Linked DNA regions of Homo sapiens. The protein of the gene in region 2 purifies or fractionates together with the protein of the main gene of each other region. This does not show direct contact. Each region holds a gene or a part of one and is shown on either strand. Other genes may lie near its edges.

Region 1 (3,500 bases), about 21 Mb from region 2:
GCCTAAACACGGCTGGAAAGACTTTTAAGGGAATGCACCCACCAAGTTCACAGTCCTGGAGCTGAGAAATTAAACCAACTTCAACATCCTATCTTGAACAGCAACTTTAAATAGACTACAACTACAAATTCGGGCCTCTCAACTCAGAATTTATGTTCAAGCACCTAACAAGAGTCAAAGCTGCATGAAAATGTGTCTGCAAAATAACAACTAAAACATTACACTACTTATAAAAGGATTTAGGAAATAAGTCTGAGACTAGTACACTGTTGTAGGGAATGAAGTCTTCCTAGTATTTAGTGCCAAGAAAAGATCTGTCTCTTCATATAAATTCATATGCTTCTTTTCATCAGACAAAAAGAAATACAAAACCAGTCACTTTTCCTTATTTTTTGTTAGTTAACATTGCTCAACTCGACTTTCAATTTAAAAATTCTATCACACTGTCTAGTAAAATGCCCTCTAGTTTTTCATTTTCCTCTTTTTATTGTCTTGCATTTTTAGTGTAAGTGACCCCAAATCTTTTATGGAGGGACCCTGGATAATGCGAATGCACAAAACAATTATCTGGGACTGGGGATTGCTTGCTGGGGGGATTTTTAATTCTCCAACTCTCTAATAGTTGTAGGGCTCTTCATGTTATCTATTTCATCTGGGCTGAGTTTTGCTAGTTAACTGGTAGTTGTTGGAGAACTGGTCCATTTCTTCTGAATTTTTAAAGTTATGAGCATAAAATTACTCATAGTATTCCCTTATTATCCTTCCAGTGGCTATAGGTTCTGTAGTAATATCCCATTTCATAGCTGATATTGGTGATTTATGTTGTGTCTTCTCTCTTTTAATTTCTGTCAATCTTCCCCAATTATTGGTGAATCAAACATTCGAAAGAATGGGGTTCAAGAGTAACCATAAACCACGGGCAAACCTGATTTTTTCCAGCATGTTCCATGATTTTTTCATAGACGATTTCATTCATGATCTGGAAACGCTTGATAGCTTTTTTCTCTGTGATACCCACATATGTCTGTTCCAGAGGCACTGGACGGAAGCTAGAAGTTCAACAGTTAGACAAATGAGGCTTTGGCAGAAAATACTGTGGGAATAAACAGTCTTTTTCACTGCCCCAAGAGCAATATTCCTCCTTTATGATTCACACCACATCAAAACCCAAAGGCCCTTCTAAAACCCAACCCAGTAGCACTCCTTGGAAAAGAGGAAAGAGAGCAGGATGGTCACCTTGGCAGAACTTTGCCCAGTCTTTCCTGATACCTGTTGTCAAAGTAAAAGAGACCCTTGGCAGGGTCAACACGTAGAAAGGTGGCTACATCTTCATAGTTGGGTAGGGTGGCACTGAGACCAATGAGTCGGACATCCTCTTGGGTCATCTCAATGTTTCGGATGGCCCTGGCCACTAAAGCTTCTAAGACAGGACCTCTGTCATCGTGGAGAAGATGAATCTCATCCTACGGAATTGGAGGACAGAAATTACCTCTAGCACTAGAGATACATAGTCCCTTTTCCTGGAATTGTCCCATATTGTAGGCATATAACCTAATATGCCTAAGAAAAAAGACAAGGGATCCCAAGCCACAGATGCCCAAAGGATGGAGACAATATTTCCCATGAAATACTCCAGAAAGTAACAGACTCTGACCATGAGTTGCTTTGGTACAGTTCAGTAACATACTTTGTATAAAGAAATTCTGAAACTCAGATAAATGAGTTTAAACTTTACTTAAAGGTAAACTTCTTTATGAAAAAGGATATAAATATGATCTGATCAGAAGCTTCACCTCTGGCAGTTATAGTTCCCAAGAACAAAAGCTATCACACATCAAATGATGAGTTTGAATAGTCTAAAGCAGTGCATCTCAAATTTTATTAAGTATCCCAAAGCCAGGGGATGTTGTTAAAAAGGAGATTGTATTCAGCAGGTGTGGGGTGAGGCCACAAATCCTGCATTTCTAACAAGCTCCTATTCCATGCTGCTGCTGCTATGACCCCAACCATGGATCAGGCTTCAAGTAGCAAAGCTCTAAAGCAGGGACCAGAAATGTTTTTTTTAAAAAGTCAGATGCTCCATCTCAAAAAAAAAAAAAAAAAAAAGCCGGGGGCAGTGGCTCACGCCTGTAATCCCAGCACTTTGGGAGGCTGAGGTAGGTGCATCACCCAAGGCCAGGAGTTCGAGACCAGCCTGGCCATCAGATTGGTGAAACCCCATTTCTACTAAAAATACAAAAAATTAGCTGGGCATGGTGGCGGGCAACTGTAATCCCAGCTACTCGGGAGACTGAGGCAGGAGAACTGCTTGAACCCGGGAGGCGGAGGCTGTAGTGAGCTGAGATTGCATCATCGCACTCCAGCCTGGGCAACAAGAGTGAAACTCCGTCTAAAAAAAAAAAGCCAGACAGTCAGTATTTCAGGCTTTGGCCCACGCAGCCCCTATTGCAAATACTCAGCTCTGCCATTGCAGCCAAAAGCAGCTGTAAACAATACATAAACAAATGGGTGTAACTATGTTCCAACAGAACAAAGCCAGTACCCACAGACTGCCAACCCCTGCTCCAGAACACTGAAAACCAACACGTGAAGTCTCCTTTCTTGCTTTTCCCAGACAACTTAAACTATACTCAGACTTAGTCACTAATCTCTGGAAGTTTCTGTGTATATGGAATACAATATCCTGCTTCCTCACTCATTCCCTCAGAGAATGGATTCTTTTACTTATAAAACCCTAAATGATGTTGGATATGATGGTTTTTTGTCTATCTGTTTACATTTGTTTCAAAATATTTCAGACATAGCTTCTTGGCCTTTTGGCTTAAGATCAAGTGTAGTAAAATATTTCAGACATAAAAAAATATATAAAGAATAACATGGCAGGCTAGGCGCAGTGGCTCACGCTTGTAATCCCAGAACTTTGGGAGGCTGAGGTGGGTAGATCACGAGGTCAGGAGTTCGAGACCAGCCTGGCCAACACAGTGAAACCCAGTCTCTACTAAAAATATAAAAATTAGCTGGGCATGGTGGCAGGCGCCTGTAATTCCAGCTACAGGGGAGGCTGAGGCAGGAGAATTGCTTGAACTCGGGAGGCAGAGGCTGCAGTGAGCCAAGATCGTGCCACTGTACTCAGCCTGGGCGACAGAGCTAGACTCCATCTCAAACAAACAAACAAACAAATAAATAAATAAATAAGATGGCAAACACAAGCTGACAATAGCTGTCATTATAATGTTTTGGATGGCCCTGGCCACCAAAGCTTCTAAGACAGGACCTCTGTCATCGTGGAGAAGATGGATCTCATCCTACGGAATTGGAGGACTAGTCATTACAAAGGCTAGTGCCTACAGAAAAGGCAGCAAAGAAACATTTCGCATGAAAACCCAGCAAACCCGCCCTGACACAACTGGACTCTATATTCTACGACTGCTCCCAACTCACCAGAATGATGAGCCGCACCAGCTGGGTGTAGGTGCGCTCACCACCCTTGCGGGTGATGA
Region 2 (3,500 bases):
TTTTCAAATTTATTACTTTTTCTCATAATTTCTTCTTTTGCCTTTAAGTTTAGAAGGAACTCCCTCACTCTCAAATATAGTCATTTACCATCTTAGTATATTTTATAGTTTCATTTTTACATTTTTTAAAATTTTACCTGAAATTTTTTTGGTGTATAGTGAGAGGTGAGGACTTAACATTCTTTTTGTAAACAGCCAGCCATCTAGCATCATTTATTAAGTAATTTTTCCTTTCCCTACTGGGGATATTTCAAACCAGTATACTCTTTCTTAAATACAGAAGAGCGGCTCTGCATTTTAGCTTTGTTAAATTCATTTGTCAATTTTTTTTTTTGAGATGGAGTTTTGCTCTTGTCACCCAGGCTGGAGTGCAATGGCGGCTCACTGCAACGTCTGCCTCCTGGGTTCAGGCGATTCTTCTGCCTCAGCCACCCAAGTAGCTGGGATTACAGGTGTTAGCCACCGCACCTGGCTAATTTTTGTATCTTTAGTAGAGACGGAGTTTCACCATGTTGGTGAGGCTGGTCTCAAACTCCTGACCTCACGCAATCCGCCTGCCTCAGCCTCCCAAAGTGCTGGGATTACAGGCATGAGCCACTGTGCCTGGCCCATTTGTCTATATATGAGTACCACACATTTAATTATTTTGCTAAATAATAGATTTTAATAGCTAAATTTTTTAGAAATGATAAAATTAGAATCAGTCTTCCTTCACAACTTACCTGGTTGCACTTTTTAACCACATCTGGCCCAGGTGTGGCATTGAGAAGTGCTATAATAAGGTAACGATTTAGCAGCTTCCCTAGTCCTAGTTCTTGCAAGGTGTCATCTGTAAGGAGTCCATTCCAAAGAAGAATATTGCGGAAGAGCTAAAATAAAATATCAAGTAAATATGTACCTTTTCTCCAAAGAGAAACTGTAATAGTCTCTAACAAACATGAAGAGTTGGTCAAACTAAAATTCTCACTACAATTAGCCCTGTTGGAACTGTCAATTTTAGAATACAATATCTCTGAATAAATACTTGATTCTTTCCAAACTCCATGTATTTGCTCATCTTATTTTCATTTTCTAGGATAACCATCCCCAAATCTATCTCAAATAACTTCACTAGAGCCTTTCCAGATCAATAATCTTCCTTCCCAATCCATTTTCTCTCAAAGCCGGGGGCCATCAAGTATAAGACCACAGGACCACGTGATTCATAAAGAACTACTGTCAAAACTAGGGCCGCCATTACCAACATGTGACCTTGAGAAGGCAATCAACGCTGAGAGCTTCATTCCTCTGATACATAAAGATTTATAATCACCTTTGAGTTTGAAGATAACTTGGATTAAGTAACCATAATAAATTCTAATAAAATATTGGTTGTCCTTTCCCTCTACTAAATTCAGATCTTTCTGTGAATTTTAAGGTGTTTCTTTTTTTGCAGTACTATATTCATTACTCTGAGTGCTGAACTACATGCTGTTTTACTAAAATGTAATGCTTTTTCACATTTTATCTCATTGTTGATGTTGTTCCCTCTTCCCAGAAAGCCTTTTCCCTGATTCAACCACATGACAAATATTAATTCACACTATTAAAACTACTCTTGGTGAGGTCACCTATATCCTTCTAATTGTCAAATCCAATAAACAGTGTTTCAGTCTTTCTCTTAATACTCTTTGGTGGCATTTAACACTCTTTTCTTCATTCTTGAAAATCTTTCATTTAGCTTCCTTGAGGCCATTCTCTTGTGATCATCCTAAGGCTCATAATTGATTCTACAGATTCCCTGAAGCCTCCATGTTCTCCTCTTCTGTTAGTATTTCCCGAGGTTCTGTCCTTGGCCTACTTCTCATGCTTCATCCAGTCTCCTTACGCAGCTTGCCATTCATGACCATGGCTCCAAATATTACCTACAGGTAGTGGACTCCCAAATCTCTAGCTCAGATCTGTCTCCTGAAATTCAGACTTATGTATCCAACCACCTCCTAGACCTCTGTATCTCTATTTGTCCCACATATATCTTCATTATGTACAAAATAGATCTTATCTTCCCTTGATCAGTTATCGACTCCTTTCAATGCTTCCTCCCAAACATTGTTTGAACCTTCTTCTCCTTCTCATCCCTACTGCCACTGACTTAGCAATAATTTTAAGGCCAGGGGTTAGCCAACTATATAGCTTGTGGGTTAAATCCATCCTGTTGCCTGTTTTTATAGGGTCCGTGAGCTAAGAATGGTTTTAACACTTTTCAAGGACGTTTTAAAACTGTCTTTAAACAAAATATTTTGTACCATGAGGAAATTATATGACATTCAAATTTCAGTGTTCATAAGTTTTATTCAAACAGCCATGTTCATTTGTTTATGTACTATGACTGTTTTTGTGCTACAGCGGCAGAGTTGAGTAATTCGACAGAGACCATGTGACCACAAAGCCTAAAATACTATCTAATTCTTATAGAAGAAGTTTGTTGTTCTTTGTTCTATAGTAAACAGGATTTTTACAAAAATTGCCTTTTCATTTTTGCAGTTTTTGCTCACCTTTAGGCCTGACCAGAACTGTCTTTCTTGGAACTTTGAATGAGGTGATGTTTTGTTTTCTACAGCACTAATTAGAAACAAACGAAAGAGAAGAGAAAATGCAAAGAACTATTAGTCTTTCAGAACCAGAGTTTAAGATCAGACTTTCTTTTAAACCAACCAAACTAAGCCTTAATGGAATATAAATAGAGATTGTTTATTTTATTTTATAAATAAAATATATATTTATTTATAAAATATATATTTATATATTTATAAATATGTTTATAAAATATATATTTATATATTTATAAATATGTTTATAAAATATATATTTATATATTTATAAATATGTTTATAAAATATATATTTATATATTTATAAATATGTTTATAAAATATATATTTATATATTTATAAATATGTTTATAAAATATATATTTATAAACAAATAACTAATATATCACATTCATACATCTGAACCATGTGAATGCATTATCTAAAACATTATAAACAAAGTTTACCAAGGCAGAATTTTTACATGTAGACATCTCATGATTCAAAATGAATCAGAAAGCTTTGAGGTTCCTTTCTTCCCCCTCCATAAAGCTCCTCCATCCTGTCACTACTCACTGGATTGCTACAGTTCATGCATCATTATAACTGATGGCTTCTTAGCAAAGTTATGATCATACATCAAATACTCGTTTTATAATTTAAAGTGACTGCAGAATTTACAGGTGCAGTTTCTCGTTCCTCAGCATTGTGCTTCCTCTGTGCTAGGCCCTGTTGTGTTCTGAGCATTCTCTTCATCTCCCTAATATCCTGTGAGGTAGGCACTAATTTTATCCTTATTTTATAGATGAGAAAACAAGTGCATAAAAATACCTACTAACAGTGGACGTGTGCTCTTTACCACTCTATATCACCTGCTATGTTCCTAGGATATATGTAAAACCAAAACCAAAACCAACCAAACAAAATTCAT
Region 3 (3,500 bases), on a different chromosome or scaffold from region 2:
GGCCCAGCAACGCATATTCTTGAAACATCCACTTTGACCAAATCTCTTCTCTACCTCACAACTCTTGCTGAATTAACTCTTCTTTAGCTTCCTAGACGTTCAACATCTGGCTGGGCTGTATCTGTCCAGCCAGTTTCTCTTCCTTTACATTTATAGCATGTTTCATCTTACATTCAGTCCAGGATCTTAGTAGCCCAAACCCCTGATGCTCATCTCCAAATCTGTGTTTTGCTTGTATTTTTCTTTCTAGAATGAACTCCCCTCTTTGCTCTGTTAATCACAGTCCCTCCTTAAGACACGTTTTTTTGTGCAGCTTTTTTCTGATCCTAGTAGCCTTAATTTCTTTTGTTCCTGAACTCTGTAAAACAGTGTATAGTTTAGCACATACTCATGTGTCAGCTTGTGGTATTGTCTTGTTGAAAGGGGCTGTCAGCCTGGTCATTGGACACGGCCATTTGATACTCTTTGTACCTTCTAAGTGCCTAACATTTAACATCAGTGTTCAATAGAAACGTAGTTGGATTATTTCAAAACTAGGATATTCTGTTCTAGTTGATCTGGGAGGGTAGAGACTAAATTTCCATTTTCTTCTCTCTTGCTTTTAAGTTGGCTAAGTGGAAGACAGCTGAGGAGGTGGCCGCCCTGATCCGATCTCTGCCTGTGGAGGAGCAGCCCAAGCAGATCATTGTCACCAGGAAGGGCATGCTGGACCCACTGGAGGTAAGAGGGTGGGGTGGGGTAGGAGAAAAGAGACCTTGAGACCTTCAGGCTGTTTCTCATCTTGGACTTGATCTTGTCTTAGGTGCACTTACTGGACTTCCCCAATATTGTCATCAAAGGATCGGAGCTCCAACTCCCTTTCCAGGCGTGTCTCAAGGTGGAAAAATTCGGGGATCTCATCCTTAAAGCCACTGAGCCCCAGATGGTTCTCTTCAACCTCTATGACGACTGGCTCAAGACTATTTCATCTTACACGGTATGAACCTCGGGAAGAGAAGATCGCTGGAGGAGGAGCGGGTTTAGGGTTAGGAGAAGATCCTGTGTCAGGTTTTTGCCATTTTCACATTTTTAGCCTATAGATTGGGTGGGAACTCTGTTGACTTTCATGAGAGTTTAAGACCTTAAAGTTAAAAATCAACTCTTGGGGCCGGGCGTGGTGGCTCACGCCCGTAATCCCAGCACTTTGGGAGGCTGAGTTGGGTGAATCACCTGAGGTCAGGAGTTTGAGATCAGGCTGGCCAACATGACGAGACCCCATCTCTACTAAAAATACAACAAAATTAGCCGAGTGTGCTGGGATGCACCTGTAGTCCCAGCTACTCGGGAGGCTGAGGCACCAGAATCACTGGAACCCAGGAGGCAGAGGTTGCAGTGAGCCGAGATGGCACCATTGCACTCCAGCCTGGGCGACAGAGTAAGACTGTCTAAAAAAAAAAAAAAAAAGGCCGGGCGCAGTGGCTCACGCCTGTAATCCCAGCACTTTGGGAGGCCGAGGCGGCGGATCACGAGGTCAGGAGATTGAGACCATCCTGGCTAACACAGTGAAACCCCATCTCTACTAAAAATACAAAAAATTAGCCGGGCGTGGTGGCAGGTGCCTGTCATCCCAGCTATTCGGGAGGCTGAGGCAGGAGAATGGTATGAACCTGGGAGGCGGAGCTTGCAGTGAGCCGAGATCATGCCACTGCACTCCAGCCTGGGCGACAGAGCAAGACTCTGTCTCAAAAGAAAAAAAAAAAATTCTTGGGTTTCATGAAAGGTTAGGATTAAAGTGGGAGAGCCTCAAGCAGCTGACCTACCCCACTCTTCCAAATCTTTTCCCAGGCCTTCTCCCGTCTCATCCTGATTCTGCGTGCCCTACATGTGAACAACGATCGGGCAAAAGTGATCCTGAAGCCAGACAAGACTACTATTACAGAACCACACCACATCTGGCCCACTCTGACTGACGAAGAATGGATCAAGGTCGAGGTGCAGCTCAAGGATCTGATCTTGGCTGACTACGGCAAGAAAAACAAGTGAGCAGTGCTGGTGGGGACACAGACAGGAGGTCTATATACGGTTTTCTGGGGTTTTTTGGAAGCACTTAGGCTTAGAAGTTTCTCAAGAAGGCCAGGCGCGGTGGCTCATGCCTGTAATCCCAGCACTTTGGGAGGCCAAGGTGGGTAGATCATTTGAGGTCAGGAGTTTGAAACCATCCTGGCCAACGTGGTGAAACTCCGTCTCTACTAAAAATACAAAAGTTAGCCGGGTGCGATGGCGCCTACCTGTAATCCCAGCTACTCGGGAGGCTGAGGCAGGAGAATTGCTTGAACCTGGGGGCAGAGGTTGCAGTGAGCCGAGATCATGCCACTGCACTCCAGCCTGGGCGACAAGAGTGAGACTGTCTCCAAAAAAAAAAAAAAAAAAGACGTTTCTCAAGAAATTATCTTGTCTTAGCCAGGCTTGAGTGCTCATGCTAGTAATACCAGCACTTTGGGAGGCCAAGGTGGGAGGATTGCATGAGCCAGGAGTTGAAACCAGCCTGATCAACAAGAGACTGACGCCATCTCTACCAAAAAAAAAAAATTTAAAACAGGTGTGGTGGTACACGCTTGTAGTCCCAGCTTCTTGGAGGCTGAGGCAGGAGGCTTGCTTGAGCCCGGGGGTTTGAGGCTGCAGTGAGCCATGATGATGCCACTGTACTCCAGCCTGGGTAACAGAGCGAGACTCTTGTCTTGAAAACAAGGAAAGAAATTATCTTACAGAGTCTCGAGGAAGAGAGATACAGCAGTGTCTTCGAATAGTATGGGAAGCATCCCTGTTTTAGGGCTTCAGTCTGACTCTTGGCCATTGTTTCTCACTGTTGCCATTTCAAACAGGGCATTTCTTTACTGTCCATACATGGGAAGAATTTTGAACATCCGAGACCCTAAGTATCCGAGACTGCTGCCAACACACACACACACCTTCCTCCCCTCGTCTCCCTCCCTGTCATCGTGGCAACCAAAATTATCCATAGGGTGACGGACAATACCACCTCTGATTAAGAACCAGTATTCTAGGGTTTCTGGGGTTTCCATTTCTGAGAACAGTTCCATGCCAGAGCATTGTTTTGGTCAAGGAAGCGTAGGGTTTATGGATGCTAAACAGTGGGAAGGTGCACACGCAGTGTGCTGTCCCGCTTGGATCTGACGAATCTTGGAAGTGTTAGTGCACCTCCGTTTCACACTTCCTGTAGAAGCAGCTCTTGTGGATTGTCTGGGGCGTGAGTATAGGCTGTCCTGTCCTACCAAGTTACACCCTTTCCATTGAGGCAGAAGTGACCAAGGGGAAGGGATCCTTGTAATATAACCCACACCATCCCCACAGTGTGAACGTGGCATCACTGACACAATCAGAAATTCGAGACATCATCCTGGGTATGGAGATCTCGGCACCGTCACAGCAGCGGCAGCAGATCGCTGAGATCGAGAAGCAGACCAAGGAACAATCGCAGCTGACGGCAACACAGACTCGCA
Region 4 (3,500 bases), on a different chromosome or scaffold from region 2:
GTGCAGTGTCTCACGCCTGTAATGCCAGCACTTTGGGAGGCCAAGTTGGGCGGATCACCTGAGGTCAGGAGTTCAAGACCAGCCTGGCCAACATGGTGAAACCCCATCTCTACTAAAAATACAAAAATTAGCTGGGCGTCATGGCGGGCGCCTGTAGTCCCAGCTACCTGGGAGGTTGAGGTGGGAGAATCGCTTGAACCCGGGAGGCGGAGGCTGCAGCAGCTGAGATTGTGCCACTGCACTCCAGCCTTGGCCACAGAGCAAGACCTTGTCTCCAAAAAAAAAAAAAAAAAAAAAAAAAAAAAAAAAAAAAAAAAAAATATATATATATATATATATATATATATGAGAACATTATTATACATTCTTCTCCACTCCTCTTAGACATGGCTCTGCATCTCACTTTTTCTTTTGAGACAGAGTCTCACTCTCACCCAGGCTGGAGGGCAACGGTGCGATCTCGGCTCACTGCAACCTCTGCCTCCCAAGTTCAAGCGATTATCTTGCCTTAGCCTCCAAGTAGCTGGGATTAAAGGCGCCGCCGCCACGCCCAGCTAATTTTTTGTATTTCCAGTAGAGACAGGGTTTCGCCATGCTGGCCAGGCTGGTCTCGAACTCCTGACCTCAAGTGACCCACCCGCCTCAGCCTCCCAAAGTGCTGGGATTACAGGCATGAGCCACTGCACCTGGCCCTGCATCTTGCGTTTTAAATTTCACATTATTATATTGGAGTTGGAGATCTAACAGAACATGAAACTCTTATTCTACTGGCTGCACCACATTCCATTAAATGGATATACCATAACTGATTTAACCAGTTTCCTACTGATAGCTATTCTCAATGTTTTGTTATTACAAATAAGGCTACAAGTAAGTTTGGATATACATTACTCTGTACAGAGGTAGGATACTCAAGGGGTAAATTCTAGAAGGCAGTTAGTTCTTTTCTTAAAAAAGAGGAGGGCAACAGCAATTATTTGAGGATATGTAAGTAAATGCCTTCACTACCAGATATGCACCCACTTGGATGTTGCCTATATGTATAATTCTTATGCTATGTGCCTGTAGTTCCTTTGGAATAACTGGGTACTCTATAAAAATTCACTGTGCGTCACAATGATCCAATAATGGAAAACCATTTTACTTATGTTTTTACAACTGATAGGCACTCTATAGTTGCTCTGGCACATGTCACGGAACTGTCCTTGTACACATACACACCTATGTATAAACCCCACCTCTATACCCCATTTCTTAACATTGTTTCTAAGGGCCATGTAACTACTGTCATTTCAAACTATAAGATGAAATGGTGTATTTTTCCTTTTCATGGCTTGGCACTTTCAAGCCCCTATGCCAAAAATTTTCAGCCAGGAATGCTGAGATTCTAGCCTAGAAGGGGATACCCTACTCAAGACAGTATCACTAAAGTATACCAAATGTCAAGCATGCTGAAACCTGGTTAAAAAAAAGTCACAAGGCCACCAGTACGGAGAAGAGAAGGTATACAAGAAATCAGACCACAAAGCTAAGAACAGTAATTGACTTCCACATTTTTTTAAAGAAAATTTACCAATGAACTGACCTGACATCATATTGGCGCTGCTGACGGGCGTACTGCCCCCTGGCATGCTAGATGAACCCATTCGAGCCTGGTCCTTCACAACAGTGTCTAGAAAAGAGACAAAAAGGCTAGGTTCTGTTTTGCTTGAAAGATTAAACTAATGGTCTGGAAGCCTGAAAGCAGCCAGCTTCATTCTTTGCAATTTATATATACTCTACATTATTCCCCAAAGAACTTAAGGTGGCAATTGCCTTCACCATGAATTAGACAAGTGGTAAAAAGCAGAAATAGCTTTCCTATCAAACTGTGGTAAAAGCTAACCTTTCAATCAAATGGTAGAAAGATGAGGTAATTATTTATAGCAGAGCGAATTTAATGAAGCCCTGGTCCTGTTGAGGTTTAATGGAGACAAGACACTGTAACTCGGCAAAGACGGTAATATATTACCAGTGTGTCCACAGCCCAGTACCAAGTAGGCCAAAGCTATAGGTCCATGTAGCTTAGGGCTATGACCACATTCTCTATCCCAATCAGCCTATCTATCTGCTTCAGGTATTGGGCAAAAGTATAAATGATTCAGTACAAAACCATCACACCGAAGGAAAAATGTCATGTTGCAGCTAACATCACAGTGCAGATGGGGTGGGTCTCAGTGGTATTTTCACTTAGGATGGCACAGGTGGCTATACTCACAAATCTAAGTCAAGGTGTTCATACAATTTTAAGATTTGTAAGCCTCATTAGCTCTTTCCAACGAATGATTACTAGGGACAGGAAAGATACAGGGCTGTGTATTCTAATTCAACCATTCCAGACTGAGGCACTGAGAAGTGTCATCCTCACAGTATGAAAAGAGTTTATTTAGGAATGCTCTTGTGTCATGTATTCTGTTACAGAAGAATTCTTCCAGTAATTCTGCAATGTAGTTGCCATCACTATCCCCACTGGAAGAATCTGAGGCTCAGTGTGGGTGAATTAACTTTGCAGCAAGCTGACAGGAGCTGGGATTACGACTCTGTTCTATAGGACTCTGCGCCTGCACAAACTCTGTGGGCTAGATATCTGGACTCACAGAAATAGGGGTGCTCCATTGCCTCTCTTGCAGTAAGCCGTGACTGGTGGTCATATCGCAGCAGTTTGTCCAGGAAATCCAAGGCCTCAGGGCTGACAAGGTGCTGATTTTCACTGTGGACAAAGCGTTCCCATCGCTTTCGAGAGTGTCTGCAGGACCAAAAGAGGGCATGAGAAATGGGCCACGTGGGCACAGAAGCCCAACATTTCATTCCTACATTTTTCTTAGTGGCTAACAGCCCAGACAAAAGCAAAGAGGGATCCAAACTCAAGAGGGTAGTCTTGCACCGCTCTGCCACTGAGTGGGACAACAAAGCTAACTGGAGACTGGAAACAACATAGCTAGAGTGAAAAAAGACATCTGAGTCCTCTCAATTTTAAGAAACATAATTCAGGTTACTTGACAGGACGTGACCGCTTCTGTGTAGCAAGGAGGGTCAGGTGGCTGAGCTCACCAGGCCTATTTCCCATCCCCACACATATTCCTGGCATCTCTGCCAATTGGCCAGCAAAAGCCTTTGCATCAGGAAAGTCCATCTCCTCCTGTTGAGTGGTTAAGTGTATAAGTACTATATCTAGTCACTACTGTTAAGAGTCGGTTGTCTGCATATAGCCTTTTTTTTTTTTTTTTTGGAGACAGGGTCTCACTCTGTTGCCCAGACTGGAGCGCAGCCACATGTTCATTGCTCTCTGTAGCATTCCCTCCTGGGCTCAAGGGAAGCTCCTGCCTCAGCTTCCTAGTAGTCTGGACTACTGCCACACATCACCATGCATGGAGTCGAGGGTCTCATTATGTTGTCCAGGCTGGTCTCCAACTCCTGGGCTCAAGTGATCCTCCTAAAGTTCTGGGATTACAGATATGAGC
Region 5 (3,500 bases), on a different chromosome or scaffold from region 2:
TTTTATTTATTTCTCTGGTCCGACTGCTCTAGCTAGGACTTCCAGTACAATGTTGAATCACAGTGGTGAAAGTGGGCATCCTTGTTGCGTTCCAGTTTTTCCCCATTCAGTATGATACGAGCTGTGGGCCTACCATATGTGGCTTTTTTTTTTCTTTGCGACACAGTCTCATTGTGTTGCCCAGGCTGGAGTGCAGTGGCACAATCTCAGCTCACTGTAACCTCCACCTCCTGAGTAGCTGAAATTATAGGCCTGAGCCACCACACCCAACTAATCTTTGGATTTTTAGTAGAGACAGGGTTTTACCATGTTGGTCAGGATGGTCTCAAACTCCTGACCTCAAATGATCTGCCTGCCTGGGCCTCCCAAAGGGCTGTGATTACAGGCGTGAACCACCCCATCCAGCTGTATATAGCTTTTATTGTGTTATGCTCCCCCCCCCTTTTTTTTTTTTTTTTTTTTGAGACAGGGTCTCGCTCTGTGGCCCAGGCTGAAGTGTGGTGGTATGATCTCAGCTCACTGCAACCTCTGCCTCCTGGGCTCAAGTAATTCTCCCATCTCAGCCTCCTGAGTAGCTAGGACTACAGGTGTGTGCCACGAAGCCTGGCTAATTTTTGTATTTTTTTGTAAAGAAAAGGTATTACCCTCTTGCCTAGGCTGGTCTCAAACTCCTGAGATCAAGCAGTCCTCCCGCCTCAGCCTCCCAAAGTGCTGGGATTACAGACGTGAGCCACCACACCCAGCCTGAGGTATGTTTCTTCTATATGCAGTTTTTTGAGAGTTTTTATCATCAAGGAATGTTGAATCTTATCAAATGCATTTTCAGAATCAATTAAAATGATTAGGCCGGGCGCAGTGGCTCACGCCTGTAATCCCAGCACTTTGGGAGGCCGAGGCAGGTGGATCATGAGGTCAGGAGATCAAGACCATCCTGGCTAACACAGTGAAATCCCGTCTCTACTAAAAATACAAAAAATTAGCCAGGCGTGGTGGCGGGCAACTGTAGTCCCAGCTACTCAGGAGGCTGAGGCAGGAGAATCACTTGAACCCAGGAGGTGGAGGTTGCAGTGAGCTGAGATTGCGCCACTGCACTCCAGCCTGGGCAACAGAGCGAGACTCCGTCTCAAAAAAAAAAAAAAAAAGATCATATGGTTTTTGTCCTTCATTCTGTTGATATGATGTATAACACTGATTAATTTGCATATGTTGAACCACCCTTGCACTTGTATCCCCTGGGCAAAATGCCACTTGGTCATGATGAACGATCTTTTTTTTTTTTTTTTTTTGAGATGGAGTCTTGCTCTTGTCTCCCAGGCTAGAGTGCAGTGTTGTGACCTCGGCTCACTGCAACCTCCACCTCCCGAGTTCAAGCGATTCTCTTGCCTCAGCCTCCCAAGTAGCTGGGATTATAGGCGTACACCACCCACCATGCCCGGCTAATTTTTGTATTTTTAGTAGAGACTGGGTTTCACTAGGTTGGCCAGACTGGTCTTGAACTCCTGACCTCAGATGACCCATCATCCGCCCACCTCGGCCTCCCAAAGTGCTAGAATTACAGGCGTGATCCACTGCGCCCAGCCGATGAACCATCTTTCTAATGTGTTGTTGAATATGGTTTGCTAGTATTCTGCTGATTTCTGCATCAGTGTTCATCAGGGATACTGACCTAACATTTTCTTTTTTCAGTGTGTCTTTGTCTGGTTTTGGTATCAGGGTAATACTGGTTCTGTAGAATAAGTTTGGAAGTATTCCCTCCTCTATTTTTCAGAATAGTCTGAGTAGAATTGGTATTAGTTCTTCTTCAAATATTTGGTAAAATTCAGCAATGAAGCAATCAGATCCTGAGATGTTCTCTGCTAGGACACTTTCTGTTACAGCTTTGATCTCATTACCTTTTATTGGTCTGTTCAGGTTTGGGATTTCTTCATGGTTCAATCTTGGTAGCTTGTATGTGTCATTTAACATCTTTAATTCATTTGCAAATTACTCAACATATAATAATCAAGTCAGTAGGCCCTTTTCATTTCAAAGATGGTAACCCTGATGTATCGTAAAAGTAATCCACAAAATTCTGCTGATTTCTGGAAAAACTTAAGAGTTCTTAAGCTCTCCACTGCAGCCCCCAGGCCCTAAGGCTGTTCTGTAACAGCCCAGTGCTTATCCAGGCATGGCTACGACAGACCAAGACCCTCAGGTGGCCTAAAAGCTAAGCAGACACACATACTCTATTGCAACTTTTCTCCAAATATAAAACAATTCAAAACAAAACTTTTTTTTTTTTTTGAGACAGGGTCTCACTATGCCAACCAGGCTGGAATGATCATGGCTCACTGCAGTTTCTACCTCCTGGGCTTAAACGGTCCTTCCACCTCAGCCACCCAAGTAGCTGGGACTACAGGTGTGTACCATCTGGCTAATTTTTAAATTATTTGTAGAGATTAAGTCTCCCTACGTTGCCCACACTGGTCTCAAACCCCTGGGCTCTAGCTATCGTCCTACCTCAGCCTCTCAAAGTGCTAGGATTACACACGTGAGCCACTGCGCCTGGCCACAAAACTTTTTTTTAAACTTGGATAAATATTGTGAAAGGCAACAATTTCTTTTACCGTCTTTCTTTTCTTCTTTCATCCATCCTTTTATCCAGGGCTGCATAGATAGCATCTGCTTCCTCATCATCTTTCTCGTAGGGTCCACTTGAGAAGAGGCTCCCAGCATAGCCATTAAACTGAGAAGCAAACAACACGTGTAGAGGTCAGCTTTTCCTTCAACACCATCCCCACCAGCGAAACGGAGATCTCTACTTGTGAAATACTTGCTAAATTATTTTCTTCAGCCAACGAAGCCAAATCAAGGGACAGTCTACCATATAACTGGTGACTACTCTTCAAGCGTCAAGGGCATGGAAGACAGAGGAGACCCCCAATTGGAAGGGACCAAGGAGACATGACGAAATGCAATGGGGGATCCTGGACTAAGCCTAAGCCAGAAAGCGGACATTCATGGAAAAACATGAAATGCAAATACGACTGACAAATTAGTTAATAGTACTGTGTCAATGTTAACTCCTTCGTTTCAATAACTGCACTAAGGTCATGTAACATCGGGAGAAGCTTGGTGAAAGACATGCAGAAACTTTTTTTTGGGGGGGCACTATTTTTGCAAATTCCTGCAAATTTAAAATTATTTCAAAACTAATTTTTTTTTTTTTTCTGAGACAGAGTCTCGCACTCTCGCCAAGGCTGGAGTGCAGTGGCGCAATCTTGGCTCACCGCAACCTCCGCCTCCCGGGTTCACAGCATTCTTCTGCCTCAGCCTCCCGAGTAGCTGGGACTACAGGCACATGCCACCATGCCCGGCTAATTTTTGTGTAGTTTTAGTAGAGACGGGGTTTCACCATGTTAAACAGGATGGTCTCGATATCCTGGCCTCATGATCCGCCCACCTCGGCCTCCAAAAGTGCCAGGATTATAGGTGTGAGCTACCGCACCTGGCCTCAAAAC
Region 6 (3,500 bases), on a different chromosome or scaffold from region 2:
AGATTTAAATGAAGCAATGTATCCTTTAACTTTTATGGAGAAGGACGCAAAGGTCAAGTTATAATTAAAAGCTAGGAACTTTGTATATAATACAAAAAGAAATTCGATTTATATTATTAAATGTCAATGTACCAATTAGCCTTCTGTACTGAACCATCTATTTATTGACCTGTTTCTAACCCAGTGAACAACAGTCACGTTAAATTCACGCTGAAAGGGCCATATTTCTCCCTACAGAAAAAGTCTGGCATAAGTAAGGGTTCATGGGATCGTTATTGATAAAAAGGATGGTTCATTTCGATGACTGAGCAACATGCATCCTATTCCTTTTTTTTTTTTTTTTTTTTGAGACGGAGTCTCACTCTGTCGCCCAGGCTGGAGTGCAGTGGCGTGATCTCGGCTCACTGCAACCTCCACTTCCCAGGTTCAAGCGATTCTCCTGCCTCAGCCTCCTGAGTAGCTGGGACCACAGGTGCACACTACCACGCCTGGCTAATTTTTGTATTTTCAGTAGAGACAGGGTTTCACCATGTTGGCCAGGATGGTCTCATTCTCCTGACCTCGTGATCCACCCACCTCAGCTTCCCAAAGTGCTGGGATTACAGGCGTGAGCCACCACGCCCAGCCGAAGCATCCTATTCTTTCTCCTTGTCAGCACAGAACAGACCTCAGTACAGATACCAGTAATAAAAAAGCTGAAATACAGTAATTCCAAACAAAATAATCTGAAAACTATAGCATATATACCATCTTTTCCTTCCTTCCTCCCTCCCCTGCCTCTTCGCCCCTCTGCCTCTCTCTCTTTTCTCCTCCTCGCCCCCACCCCCACCACTGTCCTTTTCTCCTTCCTCCTCCCTCTCCTCTCTGTCCTCATGCCTGGCCTATAGTATCTTCTCATACAGCTTTGGGTGAGGGAAAAAAGAAGTTATAAGCCAATAGTTTCCCAACTGCCAAGTTACTTCTTCATAATTTTTAGGCTTAAGTTGTGGTAGGCCTGTGATTCAAGGCTGAACTCTTTAAGGGATCTGTTTGGCTTTCTTATCTATAAGCTAGTTGGGAAGGACAGAAATCATAACTTGGTATAAGATCCAAATTTTCAGCCAGGTGCAGGGGTTCATGCCTGTAATCTCAGTGCTGTGGGAGGATCACTTGAGGCCAGGAGTTCGAGGTTGCAGCGAGCTATGATCATGCCACTGCACTCCAGCCAGAGCAAAATAATAATAAAAATATTACCCAAATTTCTGAGTCCCTACAACAGGCTTTTATTATGGACCTGAAGTAATGGAGGAAACTTCTATATTCACTGTAAATGACGAGTTGATACTTCCTGCTTCAATTATGTGCAGCAAAGTCTTTATACCTGACACTAGTTAGCCTGATTTAGCCTCACTTTATGAAATGAGTAGGGAAGTATGGAATAGACTCAGTTTGGAGATCTTAACACAAAATGCATCTCAATATAGGTCTGAAATAGAAATCTTTGCAGGAGAGGACCACCCATCATTTCAATCCATTTATCTCTCTCTGCTTCAGAAAGGCCTCCCCTGACCACTCAAACACCCTTTAACCCATCAGTCACCCCCTACTCCCTAGTGCCTGAACTTTCATTATAGTGCTTATCACTACCTGAAATTCTATTATTTTAACTTGTTTTTTGTCTTTGTTCCCCACAAGAGCTTGAGGACCTTGTCCCGTTTATCCCCATATTCTCAGCCAGGTCTGACACATACTAAATATTACATAAATATTTGTTGAATGAATGAAAGAATCACAAACTACTCATAATTCCTCTCATTAAAATACTCCATATCTACTTATTTCAATGACATATAGCATGAGGGGCTCTGAGAAGCAATTCAATTTTCATTCAATACAGAGGAAAGAAAAGAGTACTAACATCTATGGAGCACCATAATGGGCCCTGCACAATAAAAACCTCACCCATCTCAATCAGTCCTTCTAACAAGTTTATGAGCTCTACGATTCCCATATTACAGAAACAGGACCAGAGAAGAAGGGTTAAGTAATCCCTGCAAGACCCACATAACCTTTAAATGGTGGAGCTGCTGGGATCTGAACCAAATCTATCTTACTTCAGATCTAGTCTCTACCATACCACAAGGCTTCTCAAGAAGACTAAGATGTTTAACTCAGTTATACAACAATGTGTACGTTAAACTAAAGACACAAAGATGAGTAAGACATTAAAGAGTTCACAAAGTAAACACTACACTACATGAAAAGTGCCATGTAAAACAGGATGTAATGGTACTACAGTATCTTTTCATACAACTTTTGGTGAGGGGGAAAAAAGAAGTTATAAGCCAATGGGACACATAGGGGACACAGAAAGTCAAACATTGATCCAGGTAAAGAGAACATTATATTCAAAGAACTGTAAGGTGTTCAGTATAGCTAGAGTCAGAGTGGGAGGAAGCAAATAAAGAGAATGGAAGAGGGAAAGATCAGAGATGAGGCAAAGACAGTGCTTGCTCGTCTGTTCACTAATTCCTTAGGATAAGGTCCTACTATGTGCCAGGCCTTATTTTAGACAAGCATTGCAATGATGAATGAAACCTAGTCTCTGTTCAAGCAGCTTATAGTTTATCCCAGGAGATGGGCAAATACACAACTGCAACACAGAGTGGTATATGATAACATAGGTGCATTCACTGGATACTGAGATGTTCCTAGACAGAAAGAAGGTGAATCAGTCAGATTAACCAAGGCACTATATTCACAGAGACCCTTATAAGAAAGACTGCCTCAGGCTAGGCACAGTGGCTCACGCCTGTAATCCCAGCACTTTGGGAGACGGGCGGATCACCTGAGGTCAGGAGTTTGAGACCAACCTGGACAATATTGTGAAACCCCGTCTCTACTAAAAATACAAAAATTAGCCGGGAGTAGTGGTACGCGCCTATAATCCCAGCTACTTGGGAGGCTGAGGCAGGAGAATTGCTTGAACCTGGGAGGCAGAGGTTGCAGTGAGCCGAGATCATGCCATTGCACTCCAGCCTGGGCAAAAAGAGCGCAACTCCATCTCAAAAAAAAGACTGCCTCATTCAGCACAACCACCAAATGCTAAGCTCAGCTGGCCAGGTTCTGCACCAGTCTCCAGTTCTCCTCCTACCTCAAATCAAACCACAGCTGCCTAAAGCAGGGGTGGAAATATGACCAAAGACAAGACAATCCATTGGCTGAACTGAGACCTAGAATGTGGCCTACCATATGAAAAGGAGCTCTGGCACTTAGGAGTTGCACTCCAGAAGCTAAAATGATGCATAGGGAGAATCCTTGAAGCAGTCGTCAAAATATAAGAAAAAGTGGAACGGCCGGGCGTGGTGGCTCATGCCTGTAATCCCAGCACTTTGGGAGGCAGAGGCGGGCGGATCATGAGGTCAGGGGATTGAGACCATCCTGGCTAACACGGTGAAATACAAAAAATACAAAAAATACAAAAAATTAGCCGGGCGTGGTGGCGGGCGCCTGTAGTCCCA
Region 7 (2,700 bases), on a different chromosome or scaffold from region 2:
CTGGTTCACTGTGTACCTCTTAACACCACTCAGCTCTGGAAGAGAGTCCTTACAAACGGGCCCTCCTTGGCTGAGTGTGGTGGCTCACACCTCTATGTAGACCCAGCACTTTAGGGGGACTAGGAAAGAGGATCACTTGAGTCAGGAGTTTGAGACCAGCCTGGGCCACGTGGCAAGACCATTTCTACAAAAAAAAAACTTAAGAAAACTTGTCAGGTGTGGTGGCATGCACCTGTAATCCCAGCTACTCAGGAGGCTGAAGCAGGAGGATCACTTGAGGCCAGGAGGCCGAGGCTGTAGTGAGCTATGGTTGCGCCACTGCACTCCAGCCTCCATGACAGAGCAAGACTGTTTAAAAACAAAAATGAAAACTGGCCCACCTTGTCCCAGGGACCTCCCCTGCTTCGTCTGGTTAGAACCTGGCACGAATGCGCTTTTGTCTCATCCTGAGTCACAGGCCTCAGTTCACGGCCCTTTCCATACTGAAAACTCTCCATACGTTTCTTTTAAAACCTTTTATTCAATAATATATACTTTTAAAATAATAATATGTAACTGCCGCCATGCCACATACTGCGCCCGTCCCCCCACTGTGGAGTCTGTGGTCAGCTAGTTAGCGTGGTTTGCTGGAAAAACAGGCGGCCACGGGACGAGTCGAGGGGCTCGGGGAGCAACAGTAACCAACAACATTCTGCATACCCTTCACATTCCCCATGCTTTCTGGGTCGGGAAGAAGTCAACAGGAAGCCAAAGGCAAGTGAGCCTTTTACATTCGGAAGTGAGGTTTGATATACGGTGGTGGGCTGCCCTTCGCTTGGTCTAGTTCGTGCTCGCCAAACCTGCCACCGTTTTGTGTCTGCTCACGGAACGTGATCTCTCTATACGCGTTAAGACGTTTGATTTGGTTCTTGTTCTGCTTATGGAAAAGTGGGAGAACCGCAACAGACCTGGGGAAAGAGACGGGAGGAGGGAAAGACGTCATTAATCAACCTGAGCGGGCGAGGGGAGGCCTCCACGTGTAGGAGGGCCTGTGCTAGAATGCAAGCTCGGCCCTCCCATGCCACTTGGTGGAGAACCCTGTGAGAACTCGCTGAGTTCAGGTTTCCAACAGTACCCTCTGCCTTCCTCTTCTGATTATCATGACAGAGATGGTCTCTAGCACGGCCTTCTGTCACAGGACGGGTGCTCTGGGCACCACGTGTGTTGTGACCAGGTCTTCCACTCTACCCCATCCCTCGGGTCCAGGGTGCTGATGGAGAAGCCTCAGAGCCTCTTGACCATTCTGTGCCAGTCAAGCTACAAATTCAGCAGTCAGCTCTAGGTCCCCCTCAGACCTGACCTGATTATCTGAGGTGTCTTAGGACTAAGACGGGGTCTGTATTTACTCAGAAAAAGGGCTGAGTCCACTAATAAACAAAGAGCAGTAAGTGAGCTCAAATATTTTTAACTCTCCCCTGGAAACAGCTAGCTGCCTGGCATGGCCTGAAAACCTCATTTCTCCTTCCAGGTCCAGCATAGCAAGTGGGTGGTGAGATGCCGGCAGTGGAATTCTAGAAGCAGTGCCTCCCAGAACAGCACTACAGTACTGAGGAAGGACTATGCACCTGGGAAGCTGTCACACACACAAAATCATTTCATGAAAACTTTCTTTGGGTAAAGGAAGGGTTCCACTGCGTAGTATTTGATTTGAGAAGGGCTGCATGGTGCATGAGGTTAAGAAAGAAATGACTATATTTGCCTTTAAACACTTCAGCTGATTCCAAGCACCCAACTTCAGAGGCTCAGTGAGAAGAAAGCACACTAATTAAAGAAAGCACATTAATTAAAGATACCACCACCTGCCAAATAATAGCATGTGCTGCAAGGAATGGGGCTAGGGAGAGTGTTTCACAAATGCAGAGCACCAGGCCACAAGGTTAAAGTCATGCACTAAAACAGTCAATCCCAAGAGGCAGGTGTCTGAGTGGCGCGACTCAGAAGCAAGTACATAAAAACGGAACACTCCCAACAGGACACCACTCTAGCCCCACTTCTGCCAAAGGAAAGTTTTCACATCAAGGTGTAACACACATCTTTGCAATTCAAGGTTTATCCCTCCCCTCTCCCCCAAAGAGACAGGAAATACAAGTTAAGGTCCTCATAGCAATGGTTTGTCTCCCACTTGGGAAGGCTGGTTATTGTCAACATTTTTATTTAAGAAAACAGGATTTAACATGGCATTTTTCTTCCCTCTAAGGGCAGCAGCACATAAATCATACATCAGTCATCCAGTGATACAAAGAGGTGGCCAATTGTGTCTGAAGTAGTCACTTGTAAAGGATCACAACCCAGGCAGTGTTGCTTTTCTGCAAACAGAAGGAAACAGAAGGCTCCATGGTCCTTGAAGATTATCCAAGTTTTCCACTAGTTGTCAAGATTTCTGTCCCAACCTCTTAGTCACCATTTACAGCAAGAAGAGCCAGCAAGTGAAAAACTGTTAATTTATTGATTCAAAGTTGTTTTTTTTCTTTTTAAAAAACAATCCCCAATACATGCAGTTCAGGGTTAAGTATCACATTTGTAGCACATTGTTGAGTCTCAAAACAAAAATATGCATCACCTGTATAATCCCATCACATCTTTTTCCAGCCTCTACAATACCTAGTTGGGGGTGTTTTCATTTATACATCCACATAGCTCAGAAGCATGTTATTAACGGTT

The links.
Region 1: the proteins of GCFC2 (region 2) and SNRNP200 purify together in Homo sapiens (affinity purification with mass spectrometry; 4 studies listed by BioGRID and IntAct, with this or other methods). This does not show direct contact.
Region 3: the proteins of GCFC2 (region 2) and PRPF8 purify together in Homo sapiens (affinity purification with mass spectrometry; 3 studies listed by BioGRID and IntAct, with this or other methods). This does not show direct contact.
Region 4: the proteins of GCFC2 (region 2) and CSNK2A1 purify together in Homo sapiens (affinity purification with mass spectrometry; 3 studies listed by BioGRID and IntAct, with this or other methods). This does not show direct contact.
Region 5: the proteins of GCFC2 (region 2) and PRPF6 purify together in Homo sapiens (affinity purification with mass spectrometry; 3 studies listed by BioGRID and IntAct, with this or other methods). This does not show direct contact.
Region 6: the proteins of GCFC2 (region 2) and TMED10 purify together in Homo sapiens (co-immunoprecipitation; one large-scale study listed by IntAct). This does not show direct contact.
Region 7: the proteins of GCFC2 (region 2) and CSNK2A2 purify together in Homo sapiens (affinity purification with mass spectrometry; 3 studies listed by BioGRID and IntAct, with this or other methods). This does not show direct contact.

What each region holds. Positions count from the first base shown.
Region 1 is NC_000002.12:96,292,047-96,295,546, forward strand, and holds part of SNRNP200 (U5 small nuclear ribonucleoprotein 200 kDa helicase), read right to left. Parts: coding exon 3,442-3,500; intron 1,464-3,441; coding exon 1,270-1,463; intron 1,050-1,269; coding exon 926-1,049; intron 1-925. UniProt on the Homo sapiens protein: Catalyzes the ATP-dependent unwinding of U4/U6 RNA duplices, an essential step in the assembly of a catalytically active spliceosome. Plays a role in pre-mRNA splicing as a core component of precatalytic, catalytic and postcatalytic spliceosomal complexes.
Region 2 is NC_000002.12:75,669,416-75,672,915, forward strand, and holds part of GCFC2 (intron Large complex component GCFC2), read right to left. Parts: exon of another isoform or gene 2,901-3,500; intron 2,602-2,900; coding exon 2,535-2,601; intron 870-2,534; coding exon 723-869; intron 1-722.
Region 3 is NC_000017.11:1,653,868-1,657,367, reverse strand, and holds part of PRPF8 (pre-mRNA-processing-splicing factor 8), read left to right. Parts: intron 1-606; coding exon 607-720; intron 721-802; coding exon 803-976; intron 977-1,824; coding exon 1,825-2,018; intron 2,019-3,351; coding exon 3,352-3,500. UniProt on the Homo sapiens protein: Plays a role in pre-mRNA splicing as core component of precatalytic, catalytic and postcatalytic spliceosomal complexes, both of the predominant U2-type spliceosome and the minor U12-type spliceosome.
Region 4 is NC_000020.11:484,791-488,290, forward strand, and holds part of CSNK2A1 (casein kinase II subunit alpha), read right to left. Parts: intron 2,786-3,500; coding exon 2,637-2,785; intron 1,673-2,636; coding exon 1,586-1,672; intron 1-1,585. UniProt on the Homo sapiens protein: Catalytic subunit of a constitutively active serine/threonine-protein kinase complex that phosphorylates a large number of substrates containing acidic residues C-terminal to the phosphorylated serine or threonine.
Region 5 is NC_000020.11:63,984,132-63,987,631, reverse strand, and holds part of PRPF6 (pre-mRNA-processing factor 6), read right to left. Parts: intron 2,726-3,500; coding exon 2,607-2,725; intron 1-2,606. UniProt on the Homo sapiens protein: Involved in pre-mRNA splicing as component of the U4/U6-U5 tri-snRNP complex, one of the building blocks of the spliceosome.
Region 6 is NC_000014.9:75,166,613-75,170,112, forward strand, and holds part of TMED10 (transmembrane emp24 domain-containing protein 10 precursor), read right to left. Parts: intron 1-3,500. UniProt on the Homo sapiens protein: Cargo receptor involved in protein vesicular trafficking and quality control in the endoplasmic reticulum (ER) and Golgi.
Region 7 is NC_000016.10:58,157,407-58,160,106, forward strand, and holds the end of CSNK2A2 (casein kinase II subunit alpha'), read right to left. Parts: exon of another isoform or gene 948-2,700; 3' UTR 501-947; downstream 1-500.